Linked DNA regions of Homo sapiens. The protein of the gene in region 1 interacts with the protein of each later gene in a biochemical or structural test. Each region holds a gene or a part of one and is shown on either strand. Other genes may lie near its edges. The genes, in order: ADAP1, PRKCI and PRKD1.

Evidence for each region.
Region 2: the proteins of ADAP1 (region 1) and PRKCI form a complex in vitro, tested with the Homo sapiens proteins (one study listed by BioGRID).
Region 3: the proteins of ADAP1 (region 1) and PRKD1 form a complex in vitro, tested with the Homo sapiens proteins (one study listed by BioGRID).

What each region holds. Positions count from the first base shown.
Region 1 is NC_000007.14:902,649-909,761, reverse strand, and holds part of ADAP1 (arf-GAP with dual PH domain-containing protein 1), read left to right. Parts: intron 1-4,589; coding exon 4,590-4,702; intron 4,703-5,489; coding exon 5,490-5,636; intron 5,637-7,113. UniProt on the Homo sapiens protein: GTPase-activating protein for the ADP ribosylation factor family. Binds phosphatidylinositol 3,4,5-trisphosphate (PtdInsP3) and inositol 1,3,4,5-tetrakisphosphate (InsP4). Regulates the incorporation of CD63 and CD9 into multivesicular bodies.
Region 2 is NC_000003.12:170,225,404-170,232,516, forward strand, and holds part of PRKCI (protein kinase C iota type), read left to right. Parts: intron 1-7,113.
Region 3 is NC_000014.9:29,575,918-29,581,899, reverse strand, and holds the end of PRKD1 (serine/threonine-protein kinase D1), read left to right. Parts: intron 1-1,809; exon of another isoform or gene 1,810-1,935; intron 1,936-3,539; coding exon 3,540-3,625; intron 3,626-4,443; coding exon 4,444-4,662; 3' UTR 4,663-5,421; downstream 5,422-5,982.

The DNA.
Region 1 (7,113 bases):
GGACTCACGAGTCCTTTAAGAGAAAATGGCCATTTCTGGCCACAGCCCACCCGGCTGTCCAGGACGCTGCCGTGTGAGGGGCTGCTCTGTGGGGAGAAGCCCCGTCTCACTGGCTGTTGCTGGTGCCGACTGGGGGCTGCAGGCCCCTGAGGTCCTGGCCCTCCCCAGCGAGGCCAAGGGGCTGGCCAGGCATGGGGAGAGCAGAGGCTCAGCCTGAGGTCTGGACTGGGCGTGGGGCGCGTCCGGGACCGTGGCCAGCGCCGTCCTGAAATACACTCCTGCGTCGTCATTGCCCCTGGAATGCGGCGTCCTGGCGCCTGCTGTCGGGAGGACCGGGGTTCCCGCTGGCGCCTGCTGTCGGGAGGACCGGGGTTCCCGCTGGCGCCTGCTGTCGGGAGGACCGGGGTTCCCGCTGGCGCCTGCTGTCGGGAGGACCGGGGTTCCCGCTGGCGCCTGCTGTCGGGAGGACCGGGGTTCCCGCTGGCGCCTGCTGTCGGGAGGTCCGGGGTTCCCGCTGGCGCCTGCTGTCGGGAGGACCGGGGTTCCCGCTGGCGCCTGCTGTCGGGAGGTCCGGGGTTCCCGCTGGCGCCTGCTGTCGGGAGGACCGGGGTTCCCGCTGGCGCCTGCTGTCGGGAGGACCGGGGTTCCCGCTGGCGTCTGGACCCCGAGAACACCGGAGCAGCTGCGCGCGTGCAGAGGGGCAGTGGCCTCCCAGACCCCGCGGCCTGCGCGCTTCCGGAGCACTGCTGTCACCTGCTGGGCGCGGCGGGCATGGCAGGGGCGCGTCCCCACCCTGTGGCCTAGGGAGCCCGGTCGCTGGAAGGGGCCCCCGCTGTGTCCTGGGCAGGGGTCTGTGGAACCGACACACTGGACCCAGCCAGCTCCACCCCCGTGGGCGAGGTGGCCCAAACTTGTCGTCTGCATTGGTGACACGGACACGCACGCCTTGGAGGCTCCCCGGGGTGCACACAAGGCCGTGAGCGGCAGAGGCCGGGAAGCGCCGCTGGGCCCGCTGCTGCGATGCCTCCCCGGGCACTTCTCGGCGTCCACCCTCAGCCACGAAGCGCCGCGTCCAAAGAGGTCCTGATGTCGGAGGCAGAGCCGTGGGGACACCCAGCTGTGCCTGGGCAGGGGCTCACTGAGTCAACAGGCGTTCTGAGCAGGCCTTACTTGGGTCTGAGGGACACTGGTGGCCTCGCTCTCACAGTGAGAAGCAGGAGAAGGGGGTTCTTCCATGGGAAGGGGGCTCCTGGCTGCTGCTGTGCGCACGGGGCTGGGGCAGCAGCCTTGTAGAGGCTTGGGGAGCGGGGAGCTCCGGGCAGTGAGGGGAGCAGGCCCCGTCTGGCACCATCCAAGACAGCCCAGGGCCCCCTCCCCGAGGGCACCAGCTGTCCCCTCCCCAACGCCAGGCGTTTTATGGCTTGCATCTCAGCAGAGAAAATAGCCCCTGGTCTCTGGTGTCGGGATGGGGCTGTCTGAGCTGGGGAGGGGATGCTGGGGAGCAGGGGGCTTTGGTGGTCAGGGCTGATGGGCGGTGTCTGCAATCTGAGCCTCTGTCTGGCCTGTTGGCTGCTGCAGGGGGCTGTTTAGCCCCGCCTGGAGCCCACAGCCCCCTCGCGTCCCTGTGGCGTAGGTCAGCAGCCCCTGCCCTCAGATGACCGGGGCTCCCAGGCCACATGGCCAGCAGGATGGGATGCTGTCCCCAAGCAAGTGCTCTCTGAAGTCACTGAGGGGTCACGGACAGGCCCACGGATGCTCAGCAGACGGCCCCACGACCCCGGGAAGGGCCCACGGACACTGGGCAGACGGCCCCGCGACCCCTGGAGGGGCCACGGATGCTCGGCAGACGGCTCCTCGGCAGACGGCCCCGCGACCTCCGGAGAGGCGGCGCCCACTGGGGATGCTTGGCAGACGGCCCCGTGATCCCAGGAGAGTCTGCACCCACTGAGGACCTGCTCGACCCTGGCCACGCAGCTGCTGCCAACGGCGGGACCTGCACGCGACCCAAGGCCTGGCAGACGGAGCCCAGGACACGGATGCTGCAAGCCACATGCTGTTGGGGCGGGACAGCCAGGGCCATAGAAGAAGCTGCATCTGAGTCCGCAGGACACAGAGTTCCAGAGCAGGAGAAAGGACGGGCAACGATAGGAACCACGGACAGGGAGCAGAAGTGGGAGCGGGGCCTGGGGGGGATGGGAACGCCCCTCTGAGTGGCCACACGTGGGTCACTGACCGCAGCTCAGTGACGTGAAGCCACACGTGTTTGTTCTCCCACAGCTCTGGCAGAGCTCCAGGACGATCCCACGGGCCCGAGACTCGGAGTGGGCAGAGCTGGTTCTGGGCTCAGGACGGGTCCTCTGGCCTCTCCCTGGTGCTCCTGGGCTCTGGGGCCCCCTCTGGCCTCAGTTTCCACGGCCACGTCCCCTTCCCTCCTGTCCTCATATCTCTGCCTCCCTCCCCTGTGATCGTCTGCCACAGCAGCGTCCTAACCACCCGTGCACGGTGTGTTTTGCCATAGAAGGTGGCGTGTCCAGGTGCTTAGGCTCCCAGGGGGATGCCCGGGCTACTTTTCTGTGGCTGTGTGTGGTGTGCGTGAGGCCACAGGCGGAGATGAGGGCTTGAGCTGGACTCCCCTCAGATGAGCTTTCCTGAAAAAAGAGGGGATGGCACCACCTGGACCCAGCAGCTGCGGACGGCTGAGGGAGGAGGGAGGAGGCCAGCCTGGTCCTCCCGGGCAGCACGAGGTTGGACCCAGCCCTGCCTCTGCCCATGGTGGCTCTGGCCATGTCCACTCAGGATGGGGAGGGTCCCTGGGGGCCAGTAAAGGACAGCTGGAGTCCCGCTCATCCAGGCCGTCCTCAGGCTGGCTTGGGCCAGGGTTGCAGCCAACAGCGCTGGTCCACTGTCATATCCCCTCACCAACCATCCACCATCACCATCTGACCCATGTCCCCCCATGTCCCCTGTCCCGTCCCCCGTGTCCCCTGTCCCCCATGTCCCCTGTCCATGTCCCCTATGTACTCTGTCCCCCATGTCCCGTCCCCGATGTCCCGTCCCCCATGTCCATGTCCCCCGTGTCCCCTGTCCATGTCCCCTTTCCCGCCCCCTTTCTCCTTTCCCTTTCTCCTTTCTCCTTTCTCCTTTCCCTTTCTCCCTTTCTCCCTTCTCCTTTCTCCTTTCTCCTTTCCCTTTCTCCTTTCCCTTTCTCCCTTTCTCCCTTCTCCTTTCTCCTTTCCCTTTCTCCTTTCTCCTTTCTCCCTTTCTCCTTTCCCTTTCTCCTTTCTCCTTTCTCCTTTCTCCTTTCCCTTTCTCCTTTCTCCTTTCTCCTTTCTCCTTTCCCTTTCTCCCTTTCTCCTTTCCCTTTCTCCTTTCTCCTTTCTCCTTTCTCCTTTCTCTTTCTCCCTTTCTCCTTTCCCTTTCTCCTTTCTCCTTTCCCTTTCTCCTTTCTCCTTTCTCCTTTCTCCTTTCCCTTTCTCCTTTCTCCCTTTCTCCTTTCTCCCTTTCTCCTTTCTCCCTTTCTCCTTTCTCCCTTTCTCCTTTCCCTTTCTCCTTTCTCCTTTCTCCTTTCTCCTTTCTCCTTTCCCTTTCTCCTTTCTCCTTTCTCCTTTCCCTTTCTCCTTTCTCCCTTTCTCCTTTCTCCCTTTCTCCTTTCTCCCTTTCTCCTTTCTCCCTTTCTCCTTTCCCTTTCTCCTTTCTCCCTTTCTCCTTTCTCCTTTCTCCTTTCCCTTTCTCCTTTCTCCTTTCCCTTTCTCCTTTCTCCTTTCTCCTTTCTCCTTTCCCTTTCTCCTTTCTCCCTTTCTCCTTTCTCCCTTTCTCCTTTCTCCCTTTCTCCTTTCTCCCTTTCTCCTTTCCCTTTCTCCTTTCTCCTTTCTCCTTTCTCCTTTCTCCCTTCTCCCTTCTCCCTTCTCCCTTCTCCCTTCTCCCTTCTCCCTTCTCCCTTCTCCCTTCTCCTTTCTCCTTTCTCCTTTCTCCTTTCTCCTTTCTCCTTTCTCCTTTCTCCCTTCTCCCTTCTCCCTTCTCCTTTCCCTTTCTCCTTTCCCTTTCTCCTTTCTCCTTTCTCCTTTCTCCTTTCTCCTTTCTCCTTTCCCTTTCTCCTTTCTCCTTTCTCCTTTCCCTTTCTCCTTTCCCTTTCTCCTTTCCCTTTCTCCTTTCTCCTTTCTCCTTTCTCCTTTCTCCTTTCTCCTTTCTCCTTTCTCCTTTCTCCTTTCTCCCTTCTCCCTTCTCCCTTCTCCCTTCTCCCTTCTCCCTTCTCCCTTCTCCCTTCTCCCTTCTCCTTTCTCCTTTCCCTTTCTCCTTTCTCCTTTCCCTTTCTCCCTTTCTCCCTTTCTCCTTTCTCCTTTCTCTTTCTCCCTTTCTCCTTTCTCCTTTCTCCTTTCTCCTTTCTCCTTTCCCTTTCCCTTTCCCTGCCCATCTTCCTATCTCCCTGTCTCCTCCATGTCCCCTCTCCCCGTCCGTCTCCCCCTGTCCGTGTCCCCCGTCCGTGTCCCCCGTGTCTTCTCCCCATGTCCCCTCTGTCCTGTCCATCGTCACTCCTTTTGTTTCCTCCCCCCCATCCACTGTCACCGACTCGTGTCCCCTTTCCCCCACAGGGTACCGTGAGGGTTTTCTCTGGAAGCGTGGCCGGGACAACGGGCAGTTTTTGAGCCGGAAGTTTGTGCTGACAGAACGAGAGGGTGCTCTGAAGTATTTCAACAGAAATGATGTGAGTCACAGACGGGGGTGGGGTGGGGGCCTGTCCCAGGGCGGCATCCCGGCCTCCCACACTGGGGCCTGTGGTGGCCGCGTCCATCCGCAGCTGCCCTCCCTGCTGCCCCCCCCGATGGGGACGCTCCAGGAGAACCGGCCTGTGTTGGGCTGAGCCTCTGTGTGCCGGACCCAGCGTCCCCCAGGGTGGGGCAGCTGAGGCTTTCCAGGAGCCTGGGCGGCCGGGCGGGGCCCCCTGAACTCAGGCCCAGCCGTGGGAGAGGGAGAACCTAGTCACTGGGCCCCTCTGGAGCCAGCCAGGACCCCAGAAAGCCCCTAGTTTTCCTGGAGGTACCCTGGGGAGACTGGACTGGGACAGGACAAACACATTGGCAAGAACAGTGGGGTCTTCACAAGGTGGCCCCAGACCCATGGGCTGATGGTCAGAAGCACCCGCCCTGAGCCGTGGCGGGCACTGGCTGGAGGTGGGCTGGTGGCTGGGGCCTGCCCCTGTGGGAGCTGCCGTGCCGTGTGGGGCCCGGGGCTGCCCCCGGGGAGGGAGGTGCAGTGTCTGATGTCAAGTGCCACCTGCACAGTGTCGTTGAGGTCCCCATCACTCCTGGGAGGGAGGTGCTGTTACCTTCTGCTTACAGACCGGGAGGCCAAGGCTCAGAGCGCTTAAGTAACTTGCCCAAAGCCACACAGCACAGCAGGTGCGCCGCCAGCACCCACAGGGTCTGCCCTTCCTGCTCCCTTGAGCTTGGACGACGGCCCCTGTGAGGTGCTTAGACCCCACCCCTTCTCAGGCCAAGGAGCCCAAGGCCGTGATGAAGATCGAGCACCTGAACGCCACCTTCCAGCCGGCCAAGATCGGCCACCCCCACGGCCTGCAGGTCACCTACCTGAAGGACAACAGCACCCGTAACATCTTCATCTACCATGAGGACGGGAAGGTGGGTGCTGGCGAGCACTCGGGCCCGGGTGGCACAGGAGGGTGGGCCCTCAGGCCCGGGTGGCGCAGGAAGGTGGGTGCTTGGACGGTACGGGAGGGTAGGCACTTGAGCTAGGCGGCATGAGAAGGCGGGAAGTCGGGCTGGGCAGCGTGGGAAGGCGGGTGCTTGGACGTGTGGGAGTGTGGGCACTGGCGCCGGGCAGCATGGGAAGACAGGTGCAGGAAGGCAGCTTCCCAGGGCCGGGCTGCCCAGGAGCCGGATCACCACGCTGTCTCTGGGGCCACCCAGCTTGGCCCTGTCAGTGGGGGCTGCCAGCTCGGGCTAGAGGATCCACCGCCCCCACAATGCCCAGAGGGGACCTCGGGGGGAACTGGGGTCCTACGGGGAGGAGATGTGGACGGTAGCCGGCTCTGGGGTGGTTTGGGTAGGGTTCCTTTGGCTGCCCTTGGTGTGGCGGCGGGGAGGGTGGGTGTACCCCGCATCTCTGGAGGGCTTGGGGGGAACCCAGGTAAAACCCCCACAAAAGCTATCCTTTTGTCTTTGGGCCAGGCTGCAGGGGGCGCAGCGGTGGGCCCAGCCTCTTTGTTACTTAGGTTCTTGTTTCTATGTTTATCACACGTCTGTGTGCACACGGTCTAAAGCGCTATATCGTTCCTAAATCTTGAGAAACAGAAGTTTGAGGTCCCTCCTAACCCCCGTTGGGAATTGGTCCCCATATCCAAAAATAAGCTGCCGGTGTCGCTGCAGATTTACCCACTTTAGGCACCATCTGACAACTTCCCACGTGGAAGTAGAGGTTCCAGCTCTTTCCATCCCCTCCCACGTGCCCGTCCCCTGCCTGCCGTGCTCCGCTGGCATCTGACCCTGGGTTTGTTAGGGGGCCGAGTCGGGTGCAGCCCCTGGCCTCAGAGCACGCTGTGATCGCTCTTCCCACAGTAAGCGGCTGTGTTCCTTGCCGCAGTTGACCATGTGTTGCCGCAGACTCTCCGCAGACTGTTGTCTCTGGAGGCAGTCGGGCACCAGGAGCCTGCGACTCCCACGGCCTGGAGATCTCGCTCCTGCAGCCTCATCTGGTTCCTGGGTGGAGCCCTGCTGCCCGGGTCCTACGTCTTTCTCGTTTACTTATTCCTCTTGGTAGAAGTGATGTGCCTGGAGGGAAAGGGGTCACCTGGCACCTTGGACTGTTCTACCTCCTGCCTGGCTTAGACTGTGGCTAGATATAGAATTCTAGGTTGGAATTAATTTTCCTGCTAATTCTGAAGGCTTTGCACCACGGATTCCTCCATCCTAGTACGTTTGTCCCGCGGTTTTGAAATTCTCCAATGCTGTGCGTGTGTTGGCAAGGGTCCCTCGTCTTTTCATGTGCTGGGTACAGGCCCAGGGTGGCCCTTCCAGTCCAGTTACTGGTTTCCATGAGGTCAGGGATTGCTTTCTTATCTAATGATTTCCTCCCTCCACTTTCCCTGTTCTCATTTTC
Region 2 (7,113 bases), on another chromosome or scaffold:
AACAGGTTGGCTAACTAGAACACCTACCTGATTTTAAAATAGAAAATCCTTCCTTTATACCAAGAAATGTGAGAACATTCTGCATTTGAAAAAGTTTTCTTTTCTCTCCAATCTTCTGAAGGGCCATTATTACATAGCATTTCCTCTATCCCTCTACACTTTTCTTTTCTTTTTTTTTTTTTTAAATAGAGACAAGGTCTCACCGTGTTGCCCAGGCTAATCCCAAACTCCTGGGCTCAAGTGATCCTCCTGCCTCAGCCTCTCAAAGTGCTGGGATTACAGGTGTGAGCCACTGTACCTGGCTCCACTACCCTTTTCTAACAATATTTCTTTCCAGTGAATGTTGACTCATTTAATAGCCAGCATTTTTTTTAGTGAAAAAATTGCCCTCTCTTTTCAAAGATGTGTATAGTGTTATTATTCTGTTAAGCTTGATCTCAGTGAAAACGTGTAATCTCTCTAGATCTAATAACATTTAATTTTTTTCTAATTTTTATTTTATTTTATTTTATTTATTTATTTTTTTGGAGATGGAGTCTCGCTCTGTCACCTGGGCTGGAGTGCAGTGGCGTGATCTCGGCTCATTGCAACCTCCGCCTCCCAGGTTCAAGGGATTCTCCTGCGGCTGCCTCCCGAGTAGGTGGGACTACAGGCGCCCACCACCACGCCCAGCTAATTTTTGTATTTTAGTAGAGACGGGTTTTCACCATGTTGGCCAGGTTGGTCTCCCAACTTCTGACCTCAAGTGATCCACCCACCTCGGTCTCCCAAAGTGTTGGGATTACAGGAATGAGCCATCTTGCCCAGCCAATTTACATCTAGTTTTTAAGCAAGAGATTAATAGCACTGAAAATTCAATTTTATTGGACACCACATCTTACTTAGATGCCTTTCTCATGGCCTGCACCCGTCTTTTCCTAGCAAGGAAGCTTTTCAGTGAGGGGCCTTCAGTTATTACCTAGTGCTAGTAGTTTGGAGGAAGAGAAACAGGTTTCATTAATTAGTGATAAACTGTCAATGTATGTGCTTATCCTTATATAAAATTACTTGCTATTATGGGATAGACTTTAACAAGGCAACATCTGGACTGCTCATTTCTTTACATTATATATGTATGGAAATTTTTGCAGAAAGCTTGTGAAAGTTCTTTTTAAACCGCTGCTGTCAAGTAGTAATAACAATACAGAGGATTCCTTCTGTGCACATCTAGAAATAAAAGATTAACTCTTTGCATATTTGGAATAGCTGCTTCAGTGAAGAAGTATGTAGGATTTTTCTTACTGTGAACAAGTCTTGGCAAGACTTGTTTTTGAAAGAAATGCAAGATTATTTTAGCAATATACTTTAGTAATGGTTCTGAGGAAATACAAGTGGTATCTTGAGGGTTGGGGGGATGTTAGCTAATTGGTCTTAGAGCTTCAGCCATGGCACCTAATCCTAGGGCAGCTGATCCATAGCTTGGCCAAAGAGAGAAAAAAATAGAGCATGCTAGCCTGGTGCCAAAAAACCCAAACCAAACACAAAAAACCCTCAGAAATTTGAATGAGAAAATATGGAGATAAAATTGGTCAGCACTGGGAACTGAAGCTGGAGTTGGAGGGAGAGTCTGGCGAGGCCAGAACTGACAATGTGCAAATGAAAGATGTGAAGAAGCAGAAACTGAGGAAGCAAAGGAGAAAGGAGCAACTCTGCACAGAAAAATTCTCCCCACAGGTCCTTAGTTCATGATGGCTTTCTAATGCAACTGCAGCCCTCCTTTTACAACTTTAGTGTCTGTTTTTTTTATGATTGAAATGAGCCTAATTTAAACATAGATTTTAAAAATTCCAGTCTTGCTTAAGATTTCAAATATAACCAGAGATCATTCAAACTGAGTTTAGTAAATATTGTTGAACGTCCGTAATCCAGGCACATGATGCTGTCGTAGGCACAGAGAATGTAGAGGTAGGTAAGGCTCTGCCTTTAAGGAATTAAGAGACTTGTGGAGGGAAGGACATATAAGAGTTACAATAGAAACAATTTAATTTGAAGTACCTATGTAAGGTATTTGCAGGAATAGACGTTGGGGAGGAGTTTGGGGTGATGGAAGCCTTCCTAGAGGAAATGTCTGAGGCTTTTAAAGGATAACTAGGAGTTTGCCTGGTGAATAATGATGTTAGGTGGGTGTTATAGGCATTAAACAACCACATGGTAAGTTTGCAGAATTAAGATCACTTTGGCTGTTAGTCTCATATTCATTCCTTATTAGGATATAAAGTATGAAGTGGGCACTGATGAGAAATGAGGCTAAGAAAGTTCACAGGGGCTAGATTGTAAAGACCCTTGAATGTCATACTGCAGAGTTTAGACTTTTTCTCATTGATGAAAATTCTAAGTAAGAGAAATACATGATCAGATTTGCATTTTAGAAAGATAACACTTGAAATTAGTATGGGAGATGGATTGGTGATGGATGAAACTAATTTGGAGGCTTTTGAAGTAGTCCAGATGAGATATTTTAAGGAGAGAGAAAAGAGTGTATGGATTCGGTGGAAATTTTAAGGGGTAGTATCAGTAGAATTAAAGATAGTCTTGTAGGGGTGACGGGAGTTGGACAACTCATAGGTTTCTCGTTTAAGAGAGACTGGGGAATGTGGAAGAGATTTGTGGGAGAAGTTAATTAATTGGCTGGAACAATTCACTGAATTTTGAGTTCTAGGTGTTTATGAGGCATTCAGGAGGAAATGTCAGAAAGAATGGAGCAATTATTTATTGTCTGTCTACTCTGTGTTGCAAGCACTGTGCTTGACAGCTAACCTATGTAGGAATGTGGCTGAGAACGATAATAGAAACAAAAATGACACCAGTGGCCAAATACAGATCACAAAGGCAAGGCACTAAAACTAAATTTTAAAAATATAGAAATACAGAAAGAGGCTGGGTATGGTGGTTCATGCCTGTAATCCCAGCACTTTGGGAGGTCAGGGCAGGTGAATCACTTGAGCCCAGGAATTGGAGACCAGCCTGGGCTGAATGTGGTGAAACCCTATCTCTACAAAAAAATTAGCCTGTAGTCCTAGCTACTAGGAGGGCGAGGTGGGAGAATCACCTGAGGCCAGGAAGTCAAGGCTGCAGTGAGCTGTGATTGCACCACTGCACTCCAGCCTGGGCAACAGAGTGAGACCCTGTCTCACACACACACAGACATACACACACACAAATATATATATATATACACACACACACACACACACACACATATACATACACACACATATAAAGTTCCCCTGTAGTCTCTCACTCCCACCTTATTTTATTTTATTAGTTTATTTTTATATATTTAAAGGGTACAAGTGCAGATTTCTTTCTTTCTTACATGTTTGTATCATGTAGCCATGAAGTCTGGTCACTTAGTGTACCCATCACCGGAACAGTAAACAGTAAAACCCAGAAAATTACCTGTACCCGATAGGTATTTTTCAACCCTCACCCCCCTCCCACCTTTTGTAGTCTCCAATGTCTACTATTCCCTCTTTATGTCCATGTGTACCCTTTGTTTAGCTCTCACTTATAAGTGAGAATATGTGGTATCTGGCTTTTTGTTTCTGATTTTTTTGACTAGGGATAATGGCCTTCAGTTCCATCCATGCTGGTGTAGAAGACGTGATTTCATTATTTTTTATGGCTGTCTCACTCCCACTTTCTAGAGATAGCCATTGTTAACAGTTAGGGATATTCTATATCATATCGGTATATTTATAAGTATAGATATGTATGTGCATACACACACACAGACATACCCTTTTATTTTTCCAATAAATGAGTTCATATTTCCACACATGCATCTGCAACTTGATTTTAAAAATCGTGGTCATCTTTTCATTCCAGGGTAGACAGACCTCTTTATAGTTGGTAATACAGTGTTCTACAGTTGTTGTTGTTGTTTTAAGAGACAGAGTCTGATTCTGTTGCCTACGCTGGAGTGCAGTGGCATGATCTAGGCCCTCTGCAGCCTCAACCACTCTGGGTTCAAGCAGTCCTCCCACCTCAGCCTCCTGAGTAGCTAGGATTAGCTCACGCCACTAGGCTCAGCTAATTTTTTTTAATATGTTTTGTAGGGACGGGGCTGGTCTCAAGCTCCTGTGCTCAAGTGATTCTCCTGCCTCGGCCTCTCAAAGTGTAGAAATTACAGGCATGAGCCATTGCGCCCAGCCACCATAATATGTTTAATCTTTTTTCGGATTGATGAACATTTAAAGTTGTCTTCATCAACTCACTATTTCAAATAATGTTGAAGGAACCTCCTTATATTTAATACATATTCTTGTAAATATGGTCAAAGATATGCCTATCTTGAAATATGATATTGTTTCCCAAAAGAGCTTAATTTACATTCTTAACAACAGGACTAGTGAAGCTTCTGCCTTATATTCCCATTGCATGTTATCTGTCTTTTAAATTTTTGACTGTCAGATTGGCAAAAAATGGTAATTTATTTTTACAAGTATCTTTTATATATTAATGATCATTTGTATTTCTTCTGGATTGTTCCTATTTTACCCATTTTCTATTGTATTATTTTTCTTATTAATTTGTTGACAGGACATTGACATTTTGTTAAAGTTGCCAGCATTTCCCCAATCTGTTGCTAGTCTGGAGTTTTTCGTTTTTATGTCATCAAACCTGTCCTTTTTAAAAATTTCCTTGATAGTTTCTGGATTTACTGTCTTAGGTAAAAGTGTTTTTCATCTAAAAATATTCTATTTTTCTTCTATTATGCAACTTTTTTTTTTTTTTTTTTGAGACAGAGTCTTGCTTTGTTGCCCAGGGTAGAACCCAGTGGCGTGATCTCGTCTTACTGCAACCTTTGCCTCCTGGGTTCTAACAATCCTCCTGCCTCAGCCTCCTAAGTAGCTGGGATTATAGGCGCACGCCACAACACCCGGCTAATTTTTGTTTGTTTTTTGAGACAAGGTCTTGCTCAGTCGCCCAGGCTGGAGTGCAGTGGCACGATCCTGGCTCACTGCAGCCTCTGCCTCCTGGGTTGAAGTGATTCTCCTGCCTCAGCCTCCCAAGTAGCTGGGATTACAGGCATGCGCCACCATGTCCGGCTAATTTTTTATTTTTAGTAGAGACAGGGTTTTGCCATGTTGGCCAGGCTGGTCCCAAACTCGTGACCTCAAGTGATTCACCCGCTGTGGCCTCCCGAAGTGCTGGGATTTTAGGCGTGAGCCACTGCGCCTGGCTTATTATGAAACTTTTAAAGTGATTATCTTTTCAGTGAATCTGGTATTTTGGGGTTTAGTCATTTATAGGGTACTGACACAACTTTTTTTTTCTCCAAAATTTATTCTAATACCATTATTGGGCAGATTGTCCTTTCACCACTGATTTGAAATGGTAACTCTGTTATGTACTAAATTTCCCACAATGTGCGTAGGTACTTTCTATTGTTTCATTGATTTTAGGGGAGAGATCTATTTTTGCACATACCACTATTGGTTTAATTATTGTAATATTATAGTTAACTTTGATATATGTTATGGAATGGCTTGATTCATTATTTAATTTTTTTTTTTTGTTTTTTTTTTTTTTGAGATGGAGCCTTGCACTGTCACCCAGGCTGGAGCGCAGTGGCGTGATCTTGGCTCACTGCAACCTCCGCCTCCCAGGTTCAAGCGATTCTCCAGTCTCAGTCTCTCAAGTAGCTGGGATTACAGGCAAGGCGCTACCATGCCTGGCTAATTTTTGTATTTTTAGTGAAAATGGGGTTTCACCATGTTGGCCAGGCTGGTCTGGAACTCCTTACCTCAGGTGATCCATCTGCCTCGGCCTCCCGGAGTGTTGAGATTACAGGCTTGAGCCACCGTGCCCGGCCTATTCCTATATATTTTATAATCATGTGCTTTTGTGAATGGGGTCTTCTTGTAGACCTATTACATACTGTTTTCTTTTTGTATGTTTAAATTAAACTTTCCACCTTACTAATAATTTAACTGTCTTAGAATTTTTAAGCTAGATAATGTCATCTGCAAGTAGCAATTTTGCCTCTTCTTTTCTATATCTTATTTATTTATTTATTATTTATTTTATGTTTTTTGAGACAGAGTCTCACTCTGTCGCCCAGGCTGGAGTGTAGTGGCGTGATCTCGGCTCACTGCAACCTCCGCGTCCCAAGTTCAAGTGATTCTCCTGCCTCAGCCTCCTGAGTAGCTAGGATTACAGGCGTGCACCACCACACCTGGCTAATTTTTGTAGTTTTAGTAGAGATGGGGATTCGCCATGTTGGCCAGACTGGTCTCGAACGCCTGACCTCAGGTAATCCACCCACCTTGGCCTCCCAAAGTGCTAGGATTACAGGTGTGAGCCACTGCGCCCAGCCTTATTTATTTTTAGCCATAGGCTAGAATTTTCTAGACAGTATTGAATTATAGTAATAATCTCTTATCTTAGTGAAATATAATAGAAAAATTTCTGTCAATTAAAGAAAAAAGCTTTTAAAGAATTAAAGTTAGTGTTATTCAGAAATGTTACTGAGGCCGAGTGTGGTGGCTCACGCCTGTAATTGTGCCACTGCACTTCAACCTGGGTGACAGAGCGAGACTCTGTCTCAAAAAAAACTCAACTGAAAAAAGTGGAACAAAAGAAAAAGAACCATGATAAGTATTTTGCACTTTTTTTTTTTTTGAGGCACATTTCTACTCTGTCACCCAGGCTGAGTACAGTGGTGTAATCACAGCTCACTGCAGCCTTAACTGCCCAGGCTCACGCAGTCCTCCTACCTCAGCCTCCCAAGTAGTTGGGACTGTAGGCACACACCACTATGTCTGGCTAATTTTTAATTTTTTTGTAGAGACAAGGTCTCCCTGTGTTGCCCAGGCAGGCCTCGAACTCCTGTACCGAAGCGATCCTCCCACATTGGCCTTTCAAAGTGCTGGGATTATGGCATGAGCCACCTTGCCTGGCTGCACTCATTTATTTTCATTTATTTTTCATTTTTTGAGTCAGTGTCTTCCTCCATCACCCAGGCTAGAGTGCAATGACATAGTCACAGCTCACTGCAGCCTCAACTTCCTGGGCTCAAGCTGCACTTATTTAGTCTTCATGATAATACTCAGAGGCAGATATGATTAT
Region 3 (5,982 bases), on another chromosome or scaffold:
TTTGTGATAGAGTCAGAAAGCCCTATGTTTAGGCCTTATCCTGAAAAAAGTTCTAATAATTGTATTAATACATAGCAGATGGGCTTATTCGGTGTGAGCATGACAGAAAGCTAGGAGAATTAACGATATGAGGCAGAGCTATGGTCACAGAGATGTACATACACATACACACACATCCTTGCGTTCAAGCACATAAAAGTGTGGTGGAAACATAACTAAGAATGTAATTATCATGACTGTAAAAATAAAATGTTAATTTTTGAGATAATTATCCACTTACAATGATAAGTTAATGGCATAATATGGCTGCAGTCTGCCATAGTGTTTAAGAGCACAGGCTTTGAATTCCAGTCCCCCTGGGTTTCAAATTCAGCTGTATTGCCTAGGAGCTGTCTGACTTTGACCAACTTACATGGCCTTTTGAAGCGTCACGTTTTCCTTTTATTAAAATGGAGATTAAAATAATAACTACTTTCAGGGGGTTGTTATAAGGACTAAATAAGAATATGAATGTAATTTTTTAAAAAAGAATGAAAACCCCTCAATCCTAGACTATATGAATAATATATTTGCGTATAATTCAAATTGGCAGTTAGTGAGGAAAATGTTGGTCAGTGATGATCACTGAATTTTAACAGGGACATTGAGTAGAGCTAGTGACTATTAAAATCGAGGTGTACAGGAGGACTAAGCAGGCTGAAAGATCTGAAGGAACTATAGAGGTGAGATTAAGGGGAATGAATCACTGTCTCCAAAGATGTAAAGAACTGTCATATAGAATAAAGTTTTCCATTGCATCTAAAACATAAATAGGACTAATGACAGTAAGTTATAAAAAGAAAACACTTTTTTTTTTTTGCTTTGAGTAGGATATGAATTAAAGGTCAAAGATTCAGAATGGTGTATTGTGTCATGATGTCATCTGTGGTCTGGGGAGGGGCATGCATGTGCCTTTGCAACTAGATTGTGAGCTTTTCGGGGTCAGGGCTTGATCATTAACTTTTTATTTCATAAGTAATTGCCAACAGGAATTAAGGAAGATTTGGTGAATGAACAGATAAATGAATGATTTATACATACATAATACATCTGAGACTATTTTATTACATGAATATTGTATCAATGTAGACATGGCCAGTAAAGAGAATATTGGAAGGAAAAAAGCCTCTAAACTGTGTTCAAAAATGTTTAGTAAAACGCATTTTGGATGGTATAGTTAATGCTGGATTGTATACAACTTGATTAATAAAAAGGATATTTTAAGAGTTCCAGAAAAGTAACAAGCAGAACAGAATTCTCAACTACAAATGACGGACCTATTTTCTCACTAATACCGTGGTCCCAACATTTAGCTATAGGTGCTAACATTTAATAGTTCATTATTTCTGTTGTGTGCTTCCAAAAGCCACAAAATGTATGTATACACACACACACACATTTATTTATACATACACGTTTCTCCTCTAATTCTCTCCTTATATCCTTAACCATTTTCTCTTGGAAGTAGTTGCCATTGCCTTGTTGTGCTTACTCAGGTCACTTGGGTTGGGTACTGTGGCGTAGTCAGACTAATGATTGTATGCTTCATTCAGCAGAACAATTTTTTCATTTTTACTTATTCCATTCCCTTCAGACACTTCTAGTTTCCCCTCTGATAGTACTTCCCTCCCCATTATGCAGTGTGGTTCACTGTTGGGGCCCATTTGGGCACAAACGAGACCTTTTGTTGAGTTACTGTACTCCTGCCTTTCTAATTACAGAATTCCAAACAGAATGAGTGAATTAATGACATGAATTTATTTCCTGCAGTGTCTAGGGCAGTGTAATGCTGCAGCAAGCTTGCAATAGCACATAAGCTCTCCCTTCACTCCTTGTCCTCCATTTTTGCCGGGTGACTTCACAGCAGCAAGAATGGAAGGTGCACTTTACTCACCAGTGAGTAAATCATGTGAATGGATATTTTAAAGCACATGCCCTATACGCAGTTCACAGAACTATACTTTTAAAAGCTCTCTGAGAACACATGCTTGGAATATGAAAATGTACTGAGTACTGTATTTCTTCAGGTATCCTAGGTAAGGCAAGAGTGTATAGGCATAGGCAACATTTAAATGTGTGTTGTTGCATTTCATTTCTCCAAATAATTGTTTGATATTTGACTCTACAGCCCTTCAGGGCAGGCAAATACTTGTAACATTAGCTCCATAGAGATATGGTTCTCAATTACCAAAAGACTGTAGAAGTCACTTTTCTTTGCCTGACACTGGGAAGGATTCTGATTGAAGGAAGCAGTCTTTGTTCCTCTGGTCTCATGTGACAGTCTGTATCTTCAGGTCCATACAGGTTGATGCACACCAAAAAGTGGATTCAAAGCTGCCTATTCAAGACTTGGTGATAGGGAAAGATGAGGAGTTAATTTTCATTTTCGTTTATCAGCTGCCTGTTTGATTAAGATTTTTGGTAGGAAGAGCCATCTTTCAGACATAATGCCTAGGGTAGGTTAAGGGCAAAAATTAACTCTTTGAAATATAAATGCTTCCTATTAGGTTGGCAGATTTCACTAAGCTCTTTTTGGGAAGAAAATGCTAAAATTCAAAAAGAGAAACATGGAAGTTATTACAAGAATGAGAAGTGTGAGGGAATGACTTTAATAAATAATGAACTATTAATGACGTATACTGAAAATATAATGTCCAGAAAAGGAGAGTGAGAACTCCATCACATGATACTGTGGGTAACTAGGATGATTTTCAGACTAGATAACGATGAGTATTACTTTTTCTTCATAAATTACACTCACAGACTCCCCAGTCACAAGCAGAGTACTAGGCCAGAGGGATTGTGGTTCTAACCCCTCAGAGAACATTTCTTGTTAAATAGACTTCTTTCCTGTCTTCCTCTAGAAAGTCTATGAAGGCTGATATAATTCCAATACATTGGTTATTTTTGAAAGCAAAAGCAAAGTGAAAGCAATTAAAGTGTTTTCTTCTTGGGCTGTTGGTTTTCAGGCTCCAAGTTTATCATGAGATATGACCCATGTTATGATGCATTTTTTCCATACAAATATGATGTTCAGATATCTGTCATTTAATTCAATACTGTGTGAACCATTGTGTGTATTCAAACGTTCAGCATGTTTTATAACAAAATTAGTAAATGCTTTATCTTGAATATTAGTTTTATCCTGCCCATATTGTAAGACATATTTAAATGATGTACATATAAACAAAATTTCTAAATTAAAGAAAGTGTTAAAGAGTAGACCAATTGAAATTCATATCATACAATAGACTCTAATACTTCTTCCATAATTACTTCCAACTTCTTCTTTTTTTTTTTTTTTTTTTTTTTTTTTTAGTATCCAAAATAAAATGAAGGCCAAAGTTTCAGTATTCTTAAGAGGATTTTTTTTTTTGGTTCTAGTGCCTTGTCACTATGCTGCATTTAACTGTGTGAAATAGCAGATGTGAAATAAACTATAAATGAATTATGCATATGTTACAGATTTGTCATCTATTTTTACTGGTAATTTTTTTCAGCCATTGATCTTATCAACAATTTGCTGCAAGTAAAAATGAGAAAGCGCTACAGTGTGGATAAGACCTTGAGCCACCCTTGGCTACAGGTAAACAATAATCACTGAGTTTTCTTAGTTGAATGAGCTTCTAAATATTTATAGGATTTTGATATTTAGAAATCTTTTGCAATAATTTTTAAAGTGTGATTATTCTAATATCAATTTATTTGCTCAAATGCATGCAACTTCATAGGATTTAATAACAATTTAGTGTTTCTAAACATTTTTCTCTACCAGGATAATTTGATAGAAGAGATACACGCACGCATATACACACACACACACAGCCCAAAACCAAAAGGCAAAACCAAAAATAAATAAATAAACCAAGGATCATAACAGACCTCAGAGGACCAGATTTCAAAAGCATCTGTATGTGTAATCCTGATAAATGTACAAATAGATGCCCATCTGGTCATGCACTGTACTCATTTAGAAGCTATATTTTTAAATGCTAGGTTATTATATATGGAACAAATGCATGGCAAATACAAAGTATATGGATGTGCTTTATTATTTTCACATCGAATTTAAACTTTAGGAAACTAATACTCTGAAATACTGAAAGATTATTTGTAGGCATTAAATTTCAAAGGAATACTGGCATTCCTGATTGCTTGACTGCAAACATTAATTGCCCACTCTTTGATCCATGCTATCTTATAAACAGTATGTATTTGCAAAGGTTAGACAAATAGGATGGCTTTGGTGCCGACACTGTCACTTGAGGATGCGTGATGAAAGATTCAGCGCTGTTAGAGTGGAAGGAGAAGGGTAACTCATAGATTGCAGAAACTGACATCATATGAAACAGTATGTTGAGTTGTAATGATCTCTATGGTAATATTTTGGAATTTCTTCTTCAGGACTATCAGACCTGGTTAGATTTGCGAGAGCTGGAATGCAAAATCGGGGAGCGCTACATCACCCATGAAAGTGATGACCTGAGGTGGGAGAAGTATGCAGGCGAGCAGGGGCTGCAGTACCCCACACACCTGATCAATCCAAGTGCTAGCCACAGTGACACTCCTGAGACTGAAGAAACAGAAATGAAAGCCCTCGGTGAGCGTGTCAGCATCCTCTGAGTTCCATCTCCTATAATCTGTCAAAACACTGTGGAACTAATAAATACATACGGTCAGGTTTAACATTTGCCTTGCAGAACTGCCATTATTTTCTGTCAGATGAGAACAAAGCTGTTAAACTGTTAGCACTGTTGATGTATCTGAGTTGCCAAGACAAATCAACAGAAGCATTTGTATTTTGTGTGACCAACTGTGTTGTATTAACAAAAGTTCCCTGAAACACGAAACTTGTTATTGTGAATGATTCATGTTATATTTAATGCATTAAACCTGTCTCCACTGTGCCTTTGCAAATCAGTGTTTTTCTTACTGGAGCTTCATTTTGGTAAGAGACAGAATGTATCTGTGAAGTAGTTCTGTTTGGTGTGTCCCATTGGTGTTGTCATTGTAAACAAACTCTTGAAGAGTCGATTATTTCCAGTGTTCTATGAACAACTCCAAAACCCATGTGGGAAAAAAATGAATGAGGAGGGTAGGGAATAAAATCCTAAGACACAAATGCATGAACAAGTTTTAATGTATAGTTTTGAATCCTTTGCCTGCCTGGTGTGCCTCAGTATATTTAAACTCAAGACAATGCACCTAGCTGTGCAAGACCTAGTGCTCTTAAGCCTAAATGCCTTAGAAATGTAAACTGCCATATATAACAGATACATTTCCCTCTTTCTTATAATACTCTGTTGTACTATGGAAAATCAGCTGCTCAGCAACCTTTCACCTTTGTGTATTTTTCAATAATAAAAAATATTCTTGTCAAAATATGTGTCCACCTCATTGAACTATTTTCATTCATCGTTCACACTAGGGTTTTCAGGCCAACTAGGAGCAGAAGTGTCTGCTCAAAAAGCAGGAAAAAAGCTCATAGTGTAGAATGTAGTTTTATCTACTCTGAAGCAGTAAAAGTATGTTTCAAAGTGGAGTGAGGCCTTCCTGTCTTGCATGTGGTTTAATTTCTAATAGAAAGGAAGGCTTTCAAAGTGAAAAGTGACCAAAGCCAAACAGAGTGCTTGGAGGCATAGTTAGGATGACTCTGAGTAGTTGGAATATTGCAAATAGCATCTTAATGTAGCTTCCTGATTTAGTCAATATAAGCTAGAGATTTATTAGAATACCAGATCTGGTTTCTTTTCATATGATCTAAAGATGGTTCTGAGGTGAACCAAAAAATACTAGAAAGTAATCCCTAAACAGAAAGGCATCTCAAGTGAAGTTCTACAGCCTGGAGAAGACAAATTGGACCTAGCAGATTTGAGGTATATAATATGAATAATGTGGGCTGTTTTCCTTAGTAGCAGGATGGGAATAGCATACTATGTAACA